2 separate regions of the Homo sapiens genome follow, and region 2 is linked to region 1. The links come from fine-mapping of genetic effects on gene expression. Tissue or cell type: whole blood. Region 1 holds a variant in brackets; the other region holds the start of a gene. All regions are shown on one strand. Distances are from middle to middle.

The links. PIP is the estimated chance that this variant, and not a neighbour inherited with it, causes the effect. A credible set is the group of variants that fine-mapping cannot tell apart.
Region 2: CD1E starts here. The variant in region 1 is the best candidate, but not a certain one, in a credible set for the expression of CD1E in whole blood (INTERVAL, PIP 0.79).

The regions. Positions count from the first base shown.
Region 1 is chr1:158,324,501-158,332,856 of GRCh38, reverse strand. CD1B (CD1b molecule) reads left to right here and starts at 1,326. Exons shown (of 6, transcript NM_001764.3): 1 at 1,326-1,494; 2 at 1,795-2,061; 3 at 2,727-3,005; 4 at 3,209-3,487; 5 at 3,843-3,936; 6 at 4,600-4,902. The coding sequence starts at 1,434. The coding sequence ends at 4,621. The variant C/T (reference allele first, on the strand shown) is at 4,290.
Region 2 is chr1:158,348,929-158,356,928 of GRCh38, reverse strand. It overlaps CD1E (CD1e molecule), which reads right to left and starts at 3,035. Exons shown (of 6, transcript NM_030893.4): 1 at 2,883-3,035; 2 at 2,256-2,552; 3 at 1,360-1,629; 4 at 824-1,102; 5 at 338-431; 6 at 1-201. The coding sequence starts at 2,940. The coding sequence ends at 33.

The DNA.
Region 1 (8,356 bases):
TCTGTCATGTATTGGAGTCTGGGAATGTTGTTAAGAGATACATACATTGAAATTTGGAGAGCTGCTCTGTATTTATCAATTAGGCAGTAATAATCTTGGATGAAGGCTAGTCTTATTAATGTTGTGAACCAGTCTTATTAATGTTGTGAACCAGTAGTGTCCCCAGGAATAGAGAACACTACACTACTCACTTTGCATTTTCTTATCCACATAATAGAATTAGTTAGTGATAACCCTCTTTACTCGGAATCGATTGCTGCCACATTTCTGCATGATACATAGATCTCTGCAAATATGTGATTTTTTTCCTAAATGGAGAAAATCCAAAAATTCTTCTTAAAATTTTTCATGGGCATACAAGAAGATAGGAGGTGACATCTTAAAACAAGTATCTCTGAACTTTTTGTATAAAAAAAAGCAACCTCTTTGCTCTATTATTAATACCACATGTGGTGATATGAATGCCCAAATGTAGACAGCAGTTATGAGATATTACAAGAGAAGAAAAAAGCTCTGCCGCTTATGGCAACTTACCCAAAAAGTTATCTTTGACTTAGGCTGGAGGTGCACATAGCATAGCTCCTAGAGTTCTGTTTATGTCATGAATATTTGTTACTCAAAACTCCATAGGCCAAGAGCTCCTGAAGAGAAGGTCACATGCTAGCAGCAATTGTCATTTTTTCCCTCAAATATTGCTATAGTATAATTTTGTTTGAATTATAAACTTCAGTCTTTATTATATTTGATTCTGGCATTTTGGTTTGTAGTGCTATAGTACAGGAAATGTTTTAAATGCTTTGCCTTTATGTAAGTGAATATCGGTACACACACATACACATACACACACAGACACAGACACACACACACACACACTCACAGCCAGTTTAGAATGTGGGGTAAGGAACACCAGACAAAGAGGGCAATATAAGAAAGAGAAGACATTGAAAACATTGGGAAGAGGCAGTAACAGAGTGCCAGAGAAGATAAGGCAGCTGGGAGGGGGAGAAACTAAGTGAGGTGGATAAACTAAAAGCATCCTTCTGGGTTAAAGCAGACTAAAAGCTTAGCAATTGCTTAATATCACCATCTTATCCTATAGATGTGGGAATAAAGGCTAAGGAAGGAGAAATGAAAATGCAGAATCATATGGGGGCTTTTCCAAGGAGGTATGAAGGAAGGTGAGGACAGGGAGAGCGGCTGGAAGTCAGGGGGTAAGAGAAACTCTAAAAATCAGGGCTTGAGGGAAATAAAAGGTGAGGTAAGAGGCTCAGGGCTGTGGGAGGCACATTTTTCTCTGAAAAGCAGTTTGGATGAGGAAGAGATTTGGCAGTTGGAAGAGAGAAGAAGTCACTACAGGGTACTGAGGAAAAGCTTTGCTGAAATTGGAGATCAAATACCAGCTCTGCCAGTAAGAAGTTGCATCTCCCAGTGAAATGCTGCTGCTGCCATTTCAACTGTTAGCTGTTCTCTTTCCTGGTGGTAACAGTGAACATGGTAAGAGTCACTCTGGCAGCTCCCAGCACTGGTGCAGGGGTTTGGATTTTAAAAAGCAAGCAGGGCTTTCCTAGGTGCAATTGGACACTAAGGGTCTGGGTCTTTCTGTCTCCCGCCCTCTTCAACCATTCTGGTGGTTGGGACTAGAACCTGAAGCCTTAAGGCAGTCAAATGTGTCAGACTTCCTGTGTTCTTTAGACTCTAGGTTCTTGTTTTCTAAATCATTTTCATTCCCATTCTTCCTAATTGTCTCCTGCTTCTCTCTTTATCTTCACCATCTTGCTTTTCCACTCTTCACAGCCTTCCAGGGGCCGACCTCCTTTCATGTTATCCAGACCTCGTCCTTTACCAATAGTACCTGGGCACAAACTCAAGGCTCAGGCTGGTTGGATGATTTGCAGATTCATGGCTGGGATAGCGACTCAGGCACTGCCATATTCCTGAAGCCTTGGTCTAAAGGTAACTTTAGTGATAAGGAGGTTGCTGAGTTAGAGGAGATATTCCGAGTCTACATCTTTGGATTCGCTCGAGAAGTACAAGACTTTGCCGGTGATTTCCAGATGAAATGTGAGTCTAGTCCACCGAACTGGGAAGAGTCTCAAGGACTCTCTTTTCTCTCTTTTTTGCAAAGTGTTGCTCTCTCTGATGCTTCTCCCTTCCTTTCTATTTTACCCAAATGCACGCACATGCTTTTCTTGAGTAGTCTCTCACTCCAGCTTCACACCATCACACCTCATATTTCAGATTCTTGCTGCCTCTGCACTCTTCTCTTACTCTCAGACTGTCTTCCACTTTGTAACCAGCTGCTGGTTTGTCTTATGTGAAACTTCTCCTCAAGGGCCCTTACTTCTCCTACCCTGTGCCTGAGTGATCTAACGTGTGGCTTTCTCCCCTAATCCATCTTTTCAATCATCTCCTCCCCGCACCCTCCTCTTGCTGGGAACCTCCACTCACTCTGGAATGCTGCACTCCTGACTGCACCACGCTCTGCCTCACCTCTCCTTTCATACTCACTGTACTCCTTTATCACATACCTTTGTCTTCATGGCATGCACATTTTTCTCAATGCTCTTGTTTCTGAAAATGTCTAAATGTTATCATTAGTTTTTAGCTCATCATCATTTTACACCAAATAACTTTATCCCCACCAAAATCTAAAATCCTAGGTTCTTTTCTCATGCCTTTTTTTCTTATTTGTGTTTAATAACTTGCTCTCTTTTCCCTCTACATAGACCCCTTTGAGATCCAGGGCATAGCAGGCTGTGAGCTACATTCTGGAGGTGCCATAGTAAGCTTCCTGAGGGGAGCTCTAGGAGGATTGGATTTCCTGAGTGTCAAGAATGCTTCATGTGTGCCTTCCCCAGAAGGTGGCAGCAGGGCACAGAAATTCTGTGCACTAATCATACAATATCAAGGTATCATGGAAACTGTGAGAATTCTCCTCTATGAAACCTGCCCCCGATATCTCTTGGGCGTCCTCAATGCAGGAAAAGCAGATCTGCAAAGACAAGGTTAGTCCTGCTGTTATTTCACTTCCCACCACCTCCTCTAAGATCAAGAGTAGGAAGATATCAAAGGATAGGAGCTTAAATAACAAGTTATTTGGTTCCCAAAGGAGTGAATGGGGTCGCTGTCCAAGCTTGTAGGTTTCTGAGTTCATAACCTCTGAACTCGAGTTATAACATGACACTTTTTTTTCTCCTTCCTGCCTTAGTGAAGCCTGAGGCCTGGCTGTCCAGTGGCCCCAGTCCTGGACCTGGCCGTCTGCAGCTTGTGTGCCATGTCTCAGGATTCTACCCAAAGCCCGTGTGGGTGATGTGGATGCGGGGTGAGCAGGAGCAGCAGGGCACTCAGCTAGGGGACATCCTGCCCAATGCTAACTGGACATGGTATCTCCGAGCAACCCTGGATGTGGCAGATGGGGAGGCGGCTGGCCTGTCCTGTCGGGTGAAGCACAGCAGTTTAGAGGGCCAGGACATCATCCTCTACTGGAGTAAGAAATAGCAGGGACCCAGGCTGGAAATGCCAGGAAGTGATCTTCAGGCATAGAGGGAGGCACTGGGGAAGGATAGAGCTTGAGAGATGAAAGAGGGAGAGATTGATTGATTGATTTCCCTGACCCCAATCCCAACAGGAGTAAAAATAGATAATCCAAGTTATCAAAAATGTAGGAATTAAGGACCTGTAAACTGGGTAGAGGGGATCAAAGGATGGATATATGGTGGCCAGGAATATGAGAGAGGAAGTTGGAAATGACCATACATTGGAAGTAGGTGGGCAAAGGAAGGCCAAGGAATTCTGTGTATAGTATCTGAAGTGACATCCTTTTGTCCTCTCTCAATTGCCAGGAAACCCCACCTCCATTGGCTCAATTGTTTTGGCAATAATAGTGCCTTCCTTGCTCCTTTTGCTATGCCTTGCATTATGGTATATGAGGCGCCGGTGAGTTGTGGGTGGTGTTGTTTTTTTTTTTAATATGTCTTTTCTGTTCACCCTTCCACTGTTTTTTACCATTTTATCTATTTAAAAATTGTTTATCCTCAATCCTTTCACCATATCCTTTCCCCAAACTCCCATTCGTTTTATGTGGACTTAAAAAAAATTCTGTTAAAATACACATAACATAAGGTTTACCATCTTTACCATTTTTAAGTGTACAGTTCAGTGGTGTTAAGTGTGTTCACATTGTTGTGCAAGCAATCTTCAAAACTCTTCTGTCTTGCAAGACTGAAACTCTATTCCTATTACGCTGCAAGTTCCCATTTCCCCTCTTCTCCAGGCCCTGGTTAGGACAG[C/T]TCTACATTCTGTCTCTATGAATTCTACTATTCTAGGTACCTTATATAAGTGGAATTGTAAATATTTGTCTTTTTGTGACTTATTTCATTTAGCGTAATATCCTCATTGTAGCATATGAAAGGGCTTCCTTCCTTTTTTGAAACTGAACAATATTCCACCATATGCGTATAACACATTTTGTTCATCCATTCGTCTATCTATGGACACTTGGGTTGCTTTCACTTTTAACTATCATGAATAATATTACTATGAGCATGGGTGTACAAACATCTTTTATGTGGAGCTCTTTTGTTCTTCTGTTTTTAACAGGTCATATCAGAATATCCCATGAGCCATCATCATGTCTCCTCTCCCATTCGCAATAAGTACCAAGAAGCCCAAGATATCAGCCCAAAAGTCAATCTTATCATATTTCAAATGATTTTCAAATTTGATGAAATCAGAGTTTTCATGTATTTTAAAATAAATTATTATTTAAACATCAGCAAAAAAGTACTTAAAACTGTAAATTTATTATGAGACTGTACTAACAGTGTGATTCACCCTGATTTTACACACATTAAAATGTTAGAAAAAATGTGTCTCAAAATAAATGAAATATAATACATATGACTTAATGGTGACTCCCTTTGGCTTCCTAATTTAAAACTTTTCTTTTTCTGCTTCTGGTTAAATATCATTTGTCAAAGAAAACCAAATATAATTATGCCAGAATCACTGTATTTGCAGAGATGCAGAGCCTTTTGGATGTAATTTCTTCTCTGTCTCTGCCTGGATGAATTTCTAGCCCTGAAGGCTCAGCTGAGATGTTTCTTCCTCAGGAAGACTTTCCTAGTGCTATAATAAAAGGAACTATGCAGAGATCCACTTTACACTTTACTCACAGCATTGGAGTTATTTTTGTTTTTCCTCCCCTTCTCTTTGTAAGTTCCTTGAGGACAGTGTTCCCTATTTGTAGATCTCTGGCAAGATCTCTTAGCTGCAAATTCATTTTCTCAGTAAAAACTATCTGAGTTGCTGTAACTGCCAAGTTAAGTGTTTTCTTTCAGAGTCATCTACTTTCTTCCATTTTTTTTTCTTTTTAGTTGATATTGTAGATTCTCCTCATCTTGCTAAAATAGTTTCCACTTAGCCAAAAAATATTATGTTTTCTTTATTTCTGTTCCAAACTCCTTTGGAGAAAACCACCCTTGGCTTACTACAGCTATAGTCTAGCTTTTAAAGGGTCATAGTGAGAGGTGAAGCCAGCTGCACTCCCTGGGTTGAGTGGGGACTCCTATAACTTTTCTGTAGCTAGCAAGAGTTTTGTAAAATGCACCAATCAATGCTCTGTAAAAACACACCAATCAGTGCTCTGTAGCTAGCAAGAGGTTTGTAAAATGCACCAATCAGTGCTCTGTAAAATAGACCAATCTGCACTCTGTAAAATGGACCAGCCAGCGCTGGTCCATTAATTAATAATTTTATAGGGGCCAAGCGTGGTGGCTCACGCCTGTAATCCCAGCACTTTGGGAGGCCGAGGCAGGTGGATCACCTGAGGTCAGGAGTTTGAGACCAGGCTGACCAACATGGCAAAAATCTGTCTCTACTAAAAATACAAAAATTAGCCGGGCATGGTGGTGCATGGCTGTAGTCCCAGCTACTTGGAAGGCTGAGGCAGGAGAATCACTTGAACCCAGCAAGTGGAGGTTGCAGTGAGCCAAGATTGTGCCACTGCACTCCAGCCTGGGTGACAGAGCAAGACCCTGTCTCCAAAAATAATAATAATAATAATAATAATTTTATATGTGCAAACATAAAGCAGTATAAAAACTATCCTTTGCTCATTAGACAGTTTTGAAAAAATTATCAACTCATGATTAAAATAAATTTTAGATATTGTATCATTTCATCCTTAACTATTTCAACATGTCTTTCTGTAACATATAGACTTTTTTAACATATAGCCGAAATTACATTATGACATCCCCAAATAAAAGATTTCTTAATATCATTAAATATATAGTTGTTCAGCATTCAAATTTTTTCCAATTGTCTCATGAATTGTTTTTACAGTTTATTCATTAAATTGGAATAAAAATAAGATTCATGCATTAAAATTAGTTGATGTTTCATAAACCGTTTTTAATCTGTAGGATTCTTCTCTCATTTTTATCCTAGAATTTGTTTTTTAAGAAATTTCATCATTCTTCTTGTAAAATCATCCACAGTTTGGATTTTGCTGATTACATAGCTATAATGTCATTTAACATGCCCCTTTGTTCTCTTTATTTACTATATATAAATAGATTTGTGGGCCGGGCATGGTGGCTCACGCCTGTAATCCCAGCACTTTGGGAGGCCGAGGCGGGCGGATCACGAGGTCAGTTGATTGAGACCATCCTGGCTAACACGGTGAAACCCCATCTCTACTAAAACTACAAAAAAAATTAGCCGGGCATGATGGTGGGCACCTGTAGTCCCAGCTACTCAGGGAGGCTGAGGCAGGAGAATGGCATGAACCCGGGAGGCGGAGCTTGCAGTGAGCCGAGATCGCGCCACTGCACTCCAGCTTGGGCAACAGAGCAAGACTCCGTCTCAAGAAAAAATAAAAAATAAATAAATAGATTTGTGATGTGCTCAGATTCAGGTTTTATTATACTATGTATATCTCACAAGAGGCATATAATGCTTAATGGTCTTCATTCATTACTAGATTAATAGGTCTCAACTCTTACACATTTTACATATGTACAAGTTATATTGAAGGTGGCACAACAGTGTGAATGTACTTAATAACACAGAATTGTACACTTAAAAATGGCAAAATGGTAAATCTTATATATGTGTATTTTACCACAATAAAAAAAGATTGAGATCACCAGAAAAGCTTTTCTCTGTGTGATGGAAATTGTGTGTGTGCGTGTGTGTGTGTGTGTGTGTGTGTATAAAATGTATGTCCAGACAGATAGCTAGATATATCTTAGAAGTAAAAACTAATAAACTAATAATTAAAATATTTATAAACTTCTCTACAATTAAACATGGATTACATATCAACAAAAATTACATCTTTATTTTTAAATGTTTTTCAAAAATGTAGTGAGAAGCGTGGCTTTACAGCTGCATCTATTTATTTATTTATTTAGTATTTTGGCAATTCTCTTTAATGTCTGGCTTAATAAGAAAACAGCTACATTTTCATATCTGCTTTGGCATCCAATCTGATGCAATATCATATTCCATGTAGTCTCTGGAGAACAACATAAAATCATGAGAAGAATAGAATTAAAAATTTAACCTGGTAGTATTGTTAGGATTTATTGGGAACTATGGACCCTCAGAAAAGGAGTCAGGGACCTCAAAGTGCCCTGGGTCATATCTTATGAATGAATGGCCTAGGGGTGAAAGAAAAATATATTAAACATTCTTCACTTATTACTTAGAATATTCCTAAAGAGACATTATCTTCAGTAACTATCTTATTACCTTGATGGAATCAAGGTAATAAGATAGTTATTCTTTCTATTTATTTGCCCGTTCTCAAGAGAATGAATGCTTTATATGGCATTCTCCACAAGTGATCAATATTTTTTTGCATAATTGTATACTCATGAATTTCAGCTTATTTGAAATGCTTGTATCTATCATAGTAGTTGTTTTATTGAAGCTCAAATTGTCCTATCTGTGACAATGAGATTCTTTTCAAGTCAATTCTTCCTGAGCTCCATCAATACACCTCTGTCATCAAGACTGTATTACTTCCTGATGTGGCAAAGTTGCTCAAGGTTCTTGCCGAAACTTCTTGCCCTACACTAGAAATTAGCAAGGATCTCTGGTCCTTGTTAGTTGGAAAAAATGTGATACGGAAATTACTGGGTTAATCCTAGTTTCTAGGCCTTCTAAGGGGGAAAACCTAAAAAAAAATTAGCCTGTGGAAATTTTTTTGAGGATAAATATCATCACAAGCTCATATTTACACTTTCACTTCAAATTCAAAACTATGTGTTTAACTCATCAGTCTCACTTCTACTTCTCTTTTCTCCCACACGGAAAATCTTGGTTTCCGATGAATCAATGTAATTAT
Region 2 (8,000 bases), 24 kb before region 1:
ACAAGGATTTTATGTATAAGGTAAAGCAAATGTCACCAGAGTTGGTTTAGGCGTGTCTTCCACTTCTTCAATACTCTGTTTTTGATCCACGATACTTGTGCCAAGCAGAACTGATGTCTTGAATTCTTGGTGTCCTGAGTGTTGGCTCCCATGAGAAAGACAGGGCTGGGTGTGTGGGGAGAAAGAATGTTCTTATTTGAACTGTGGGAAAAGAGGAGGATATTAATCTCAAAGAAAGGAAATAAAGGGGAAAGGCAGAGAAAAAAAAAAAGAAGATAGAGGAAAAAGGAATGAATTGATTACAGGCTGAAGAAACAAAGAACAAGAAAAAGCTCACCTCTGTTTTTTTAACCGTGAGTCAACTACAACCAATATGACCAGGGTAACTATCACAGTCAAACAGATCAGGATGAGAAAGATGGAATATCCACCTGGTTGGGGATAGAATAAGAATACCAACCCTAAAATACTCTATTCCACCAAGCTGAGATTTCCCATTTCACAAGGGTGGGACCTTCCTAGAATTTTCATCTGGGTTTTCCAAAGCCCTCATTTCAATTCCTCCTGATCCTTTGTCTGTGATCTCCTCCCAACCCTCTCCCACTAAATCACTAGTTCCTCCTCCTTTTTCTGTTAGTATGTCTAATTCTCTACTTCCATTTTCTTAAAATTTAACTACTGTCATACTCTATCCTTCTTTATTTTGATTGTCCCAGTTTTACCCTTCTTGTACCTAGCATTCCTACCCATTTCCTCAGCCCCACACTCAAAAGCCCCAGGGCTATTTTCATTATTTCCCAGCAGAGCCTCAGCTGTTTCTCACCCCAATGGATGATTAGATCATGGCCCCCTAGACTGCTGTGTTTCACCCGACAGGACAGGCCAGCTGCCTCCCCAGCCGCCACATCCAGGGTTGCTCGGAGATACCATGTCTCGTCAGCATTAGGCAGGACGTCCCCTCGCTGAGTGCCCCGCTGCTCCTGCTCACCCCGCATCCACATCACCCACACGGGCTTTGGGTAGAATCCTGAGACATGGCACACAAGCTGCAGACGGCCAGGGCCAGGACTGGGGCCACAGGACAGCCAGGCCTCTGGCTTCACTAGGAAGAAGAAGATAGAAAAAAAATGGAATTTTGAAGGGCACCCCAGGCCAGAGCTCAGAGACTCAGGTGCCTTTGTAATAATACTAAGAGTGATTTAGTAATCACTTCTTTCTCTTGTCTAAGAAACAGTCCTGAACCCACACATCTCATTCTCTAGTCTCTCACTATGTCTTTCAAAATGATGATGAGAGGCAAATTCAAATATGAGAGTTATAGTACTAGGAACAAGAGGGGAGAGAGAGAGTTGGGCTCACCTTTCCGTTTCAGTTCTGACTCCCCTGCTTCCATGAGCCCCGCTAGAAATCGAGGGCAGGTGTGACCAAGAAGGCTTTGCAGTATTTCCTTAATATCTAGGTAGCGATTGAGCACTTTACAGATGTTCTGGGCCCGGATCCCTGCTCCTGGAGATGGCTCCCAGGAAATTCCTTGGAAACTCAGGAAATCTGACCCTTGATATGCCATATTTAAGAAGATTTGTGGGGCATTCATTCTACAGCCAGCTAATATCTGGATCTCGAAGGGGTCTGAGAGTGGACAGGGAAGAGAGATCATTATGGAAAGAATGACAAGGAAGAAAAACAAACAATTTAGACAGTAAAGAGATTCAAGGGAAGAAAAATTTGCTGGGAAATCATATGGAGACTAGAGTTTACTGGCAAAGGGGAAGAAAATTTGTGGGAAGAAAATTTGAAGATAATAAAGATACTTTGAAATAACTAATGGGAAAGTGGTAGATGGGAAGGCTATCAGGAAGATAGGAGATTGGTCATAAATAATTCACGTGAAAGTGGTTAGGTACAGGCCAGTCCATGTCAACACTCAGGCAAAGGATAAAGAAGGGCAGAAAGAGGGTTGAGAAAGGCTGAGTCTGAGGGCAGGAATGAGGGGCAGAAGATCCAGAGGAGACAATCATTCCAAAGAGCCAGACATGAAGCTATATTCATGTTGAGATATGTACATGCAGGCCCTTTTGTGTATATGGTGGAGTGTGGGTGGTGGTGAAGGGTGAAGCAGAGGAGGGAGTGGGAGTCAGAGAGTGGGGAACAAGGTTAGTAAGGTTAAATGATGGTCAGAGTCTATATACTATCTTCCACTTTGGAAAATAGTTGGTGTTCCCAGGCAAATTATCAGCTTAGAGCAACGAACTTACATTCAAGCTGAAATTGACCAGCAGAAGCTTGCACTATCTGGATAAAACTATGGAAGTATAACTGGAACAGTGACTGTAAGTTTTTCAGCTCCTGCTTGCTGAAGTTTCCATGGGACCAGGGCTTCAGAAAGCGGATGGTGCCCAAGACAGTGTCCCAGCCATGAGTCTGCAGGTCACCCAGCCATCCTGAGCCCTCACTGTGTGCCCAGCTGTGGTTGGCAAAGGAGGAAGTTTGGAGCATGCGGAAGGACAGCTGCTCCTCTGCTGCTAGATGATAGGATTGTAGAGCCTGGGGAGCTGAGAGAGAGGGAAATGACAAGTAGAGAGAATGTAAAGGGATGGGAAAAGTGATGCCAAAGGGAAAAAAGGAACCCAGAGATGAGAGACAGTTAGGTAGCTTGTACATACTCCAATACCCTTTTCCTGTGGGGCCAGCTTCCTTTCTCCAAAATCAGAGACAAAAACTGAGACTGAGAGCAAGAATTCTCTGCCTGGAACTAGCCTGAAAGGCATATTCCAAGGGCATCCTAGAAGAGTACTGCTCCCTTCCCCCAGGACCTCCCCAGAGCTTCCTCTCAGCCCTCTGGTGCCCTACCATAGGTATCTTTCCACCTGCACTCTTCTTACCTGCTGTATTTTCCCCAGGACAGCAGAGACCCTCGAAGAGGAGGAACAGGAGCAGCATTGAAGCTCTGTTAAAGGAGGGATTCCTTGGCAGGACACCTGCCCTAATAATTCAGATATCAGTACCCCTCTCCACACCCTCTTGCACTCTCGTCTGACTTCCCTTGCTGTACAGACAGACAAACCTCTCCCTCTGCTGACTTCCCTGTCAGAGAAGCCACACTGCCTCGCTTTGCTGCAGCCTCCCACGGGGTTTTTCATTTCCCCTCTGCCTCTCTCACTGTCTGGCTCCAGATTTTCTCCCTGCTCTTGTGTACATCCTCCCAACCTCCCTAATTGCACTAACTGCTGGAAAACGAGTCCTGGCTTAAAACAAAGTCTGTGGTCTGGCTAGAAGATGGAGTAGCTTTTGGCCTTGTAGAAATCAAATCCATACTTGGCTTGTCAATAATCTAATCTGTGAGAAGTGATGGTAGTCACTCAGTGGTGCCTAGTGACCTATCCACCAGTCTCCCACTTCTACCTCTCTGTGATCCTCTCCTCCGCCTGTATCTCTTCACTCTGCTCTTGATCATGATCAGAAGACACTCAGCATCCTGGATGTAGCTGCATAATAAGCAGGCAACCCTCCATAATCCAACTCTCTGTGCTGCTGAAAAAGGAGCAGCAATGGCAATGCAGATTATCAGAAAATCTAAAGAAAGCTCCTTTTTTTCAGTTTCCCCAGTCAAGCCAACTGTCACTGTTAAAGTGGTCCATGAGTGGGCTTGACCTGGAAGTGGTGAGCTAGAGGGCAGGTAGATTTCACCCATGTTTTACAGGTGGCTCTGGAGGAAATACATAGGGGACTTGGATCCCCATCTCTACCCAAACGAAGAAAGCATGTCTGGAAGTCTGTGGGCCAGCTTTGCCCTGGGTATGAAGAAAGACTGAGGGCAGGCATGAAGCTCCTCATTAGTTCATGGCCTGAGAGCATTGGAGTCCCCTTGCTTGCGTTCGGTTAGAGAGCAGTTTGGGTGGACACAGGGAAGTACCTTTAGAGGACTGAAGTGTTCACTGGAGAATTAATTGAGTCTTTATTTTTGTTTCTTTTTCATTGATATTTGTTGTGACACTCTGAAGGCAGTTGAAATAACATTCCTTTGTTTGGTTTTTATATATTTGTTCAACTGACATTTATTCAGAGCCCACCTATGACCAAAAACAATTGCCAGGCCCTAAGATATCAGAGATAGACATCTTTGGGAAAAAATAAAACAAAATTCAACCCCAAACCTCTACTTTTCTTATACAGTAAATTTACTGAACGGTGGTCAGAATTATTGAAAAAGGTCCAAACCTAGTTTCATCTTATTATCATTTCTAAATTCTAAGTTAAAAGAAAGATAAAAAGTTTCCTTGTTTCCTGAGTAGAATATCTACATTTATTTTCAATACTCTTTCTGTGCTGGAGAGGTGCTGGAGAGGATGTGGAGAAATAGGAACACTTTTACACTGTTGGTGGGACTGTAAACTAGTTCAACCATTGTGGAAGTCAGGGTGGCGATTCCTCAGGGATCTAGAACTAGAAATACCATTTGACCCAGCCATCCCATTACTGGGTATATACACAAAGGATTATAAATCATGTTGCTATAAAGACACATGCACACGTATGTTTATTGTGGCACTATTCACAATAACAAAGACTTGGAACCAACCCAAATGTCCAACAATGATAGACTGGATTAAGAAAATGTGGCACATATACACCATGAAATACTATGCAGCCATAAAAAATGATGAGTTCATGTCCTTTGTAGGGACATGGATGAAGCTGGAAACCATCATTCTCAGCAAACTATCACAAGGACAAAAAACCAAACACCGCATGTTCTCACTCATAGGTGGGAATTGAACAATGAGAACACATGGACACAGGAAGAGGAACATCACACACCGGGGCCTGTTGTGGGGTGGGGGGAGGGGGGAGGGATAGCATTAAGAGATATACCTAATGTAAATGACGAGTTAATGGGTGCAGCACACCAACACGACACATGTATACATATGTAACAAACCTTCACGTTGTGCACATGTACCCTAGAACTTAAAGTATAATAATAAAAAATAAATAAATAAATAAAAATAATTAAAAAAAGAAAAAAAAACTGCAAACAAAAAAACAAAAGAAAAAGGTCCAAACCTAGTTTCATCTTATTATCATTTCTAAATTCTAAGGTTAAAGAAAGATTAAAAAAAGTTTCCTTGTTTCCTGAGTAGAATGTCTACATTTATTTTCAATACTCTTTCTTTTCTACAAATACATTCAAAGCTATAAGTTGCTATGTAAATCTATCTATAAATCGCTATGTAAATCCAAAATTGGTTTCATAATAAAATTATGAACAGTAAACAAAGATAAATATTCAAGAGAATATATAATAACCTACAAAAACAATAATACATAATAAAAAGATTGGAATGACCTATGCCAAACATCAATACTACAAGTAACTGTATTCCTTAGAATTTTTGTTTTGTTTTGTTTTTTCCTGAGACGGAGTCTTGCTGTCTTGCTCTGTTGCCCAGGCTGCAGTGCAGCCACAGGATCTCGGCTCATTGCAACCCCCGAATCCCTGGTTCAAACGACTCTCCTGCCTCAGCCTCCTGAGCAGCTGGGATTACAGGCAAGAGCCACCATGACCATCTATTTTTTGTATTTTTAGTAGAGACAGGGTTTCTTCATGTTGACCAAGACGGTCTCGATCTCCTGACCTCGTGATCCACCCGCCTCGGCCTCCCAAAGTGCTGAGATTACAGGCGTGAGCAACCGTGCCCCGGCCATTAGAATTTTTGAATCAGGCCAGGCACGGTGGCTCACACCCGTAATCCCAGCACTTTGGGAAGCCAAGGCAGGCGAATTCGAGACCAGCCTTGCCAACATGGCGAAACCCTGTCTCTACCAAAAAAAGTAAAAATTAGCCAGGTGCCATGATGTGTGCCTGTAATTCCAGCTACTCAGGAGGCTGAGGCAGGAGAATTGCTTGAGCCTAGGAGGTGGAGATTGCAGGGAACTGAGATTGTGCCACTGTACTACATCCTGGGCAGGAGAGTGTGACTCTGTTTCAAAAAAAAAAAAAAGAGGGAGAATTTTAAAATCATTTGCAAAGTAAAATAAAGCAAAGTATATTTAGAGAATAAAACAATGTTGTTATTCCACAAAAAATTGCACTTTTATGTAAGTAAAGATAACCACACCCTAGTTTTTAATTTTGAGGCTACAGAACTCACAGATAACTGCAAATTACTGAGCAAAGTAGAAATAATGTCTGACAGCAACCCCATAATCATTAACAAAATAATGAAATTCCTTCTAAATTAAAATTATCCAGAAGATAAATTCCAAAGAAAAAATATATATTAATTTTAATTTTTGTAACATTATATGGTACAATTATTTCCTTCCTGCTTTACAAAATTCCATCAGTGGGCCAGGCACAGTGGCTCACTCCTGTAATCCCAGCACTTTGGGAGGCCGAGGCAGGCAGATCAGGAGGTCAGGAGATCGAGACCATCCTGGCTAACACGGTGAAACCCCTCTCTACTAAAAATACAAAAAAATTAGCAGGGCGTGGTGGCACGTGCCTATGGTCCCAGCTATTCGAGAAGCTGAGGCAAGAGAATCGCTTGAACCTGGGAGGCAGAGGTTGCAGTGAGCCAAGATTGTGCCACTGCACTCCAGCCTGGGCAACAGAGAAAGACTCCGTCTCAAAAAAAAAAAAAAAAAAAATATTCCATCAGTGCCTAACCACATTTTTTACTAAAAATACTTAGTGTCTGTGGCCAGAGGTCTCTTTTAAAAAGAAATTCCCCCTCTTATGTTTTCCTGAGGCTGCCCCAGTCACATTCGCAGATCCCCTTTTGCCAAAACCAGAAAATTCTCTCAAAACATATTATAAGATGTGCCTTTGGACAACTTAATCTTTCTATGTAAGAAATTTATGGGAGATAACTCATTAAAATTGATTTAAAATAAAATTTTTGAGTACATTTGTACAAATGTAAGAAAATGTTCCATCTGCTAATTTTTTTTCAAAGAATTTAAATACGAGTTTTATTCTTTTGGCTTATTTTCAGGAAAGATTGCAATTTCTACATACTTATTTTCTTGTTTGTGTATACTTACATTTCTTTAACATTTATTCAAATATATTTTTCAGCTTTAGTGAGGTACAACCAACAAATAAAAATTGAGTATAAAAAAGTATTTATTGCCACTGAGCTGTACATTTTAAAATGGTGAAGATGATAAATTATATATTTATATTCTACCTTAATTTTTTTTAAATTGGGTATACTTAAGGTGCACAACATGATGTTATGATATATGTATATACTGTGAAGTAATCGCCACAGTCAAGTTATTACCATATCCATCACTTCACATAGTTACATTTTTTCTTTTTTTTTTCTTTTTGAGACGGATTCTCACTCTGTCACCCAGGCTGGAGTGCAGTGGCATTGAGAGGTGACAGCGTGCTGGCAGTCCTCACAGACCTTGCTTGCTCTCGGTGCCTCCTCTGCCTGGGCTCCCACTTTGGCAGCACTTGAGAAGCCTTTCAGCCCGCCGCTGCACTGTAGGAGCCCCTTTCTGGGCTGGCCAAGGCCGGAGCCGGCTCCCTCAGCTTGCAGGGAGGTGTGGAGGGAGAGGCGCGAGCGGGAACCTGGGCTGCGGGCGGTTCCAGCTGGAGTGCAGGGTGGGCGTGGGCTTGGCGGGCCTGCACTCGGAGCAGCCAGCCGGCCCTGCCGGCCCCGAGCAATGAGAGACTTAGCACCCGGGCCAGCGGCTGCGGAGGGTGTACTGGATCCCCCAGCAGTGCCAGCCCACCAGCGCTGTGCTTGATTTCTCACCAGGCCTTAGCTGCCTCCCCGTGGGGCAGGGCTCGGGACCTGCAGCCCGCCATGCCTGAGACTCCCACCCCCTCCATGGGCTCCTGTGCGGCCGGAGCCTCCCCGATGAGCGCAGCCCCCTGCTCCACGGCGCCCAGTCCCATCAACCACCCAAGGGCTGAGGAGTGCGGGTTCACGGCGGGGGACTGGCAGGCAGCTCCATCTGCAGCCCCAGTGCAGGATCCACTA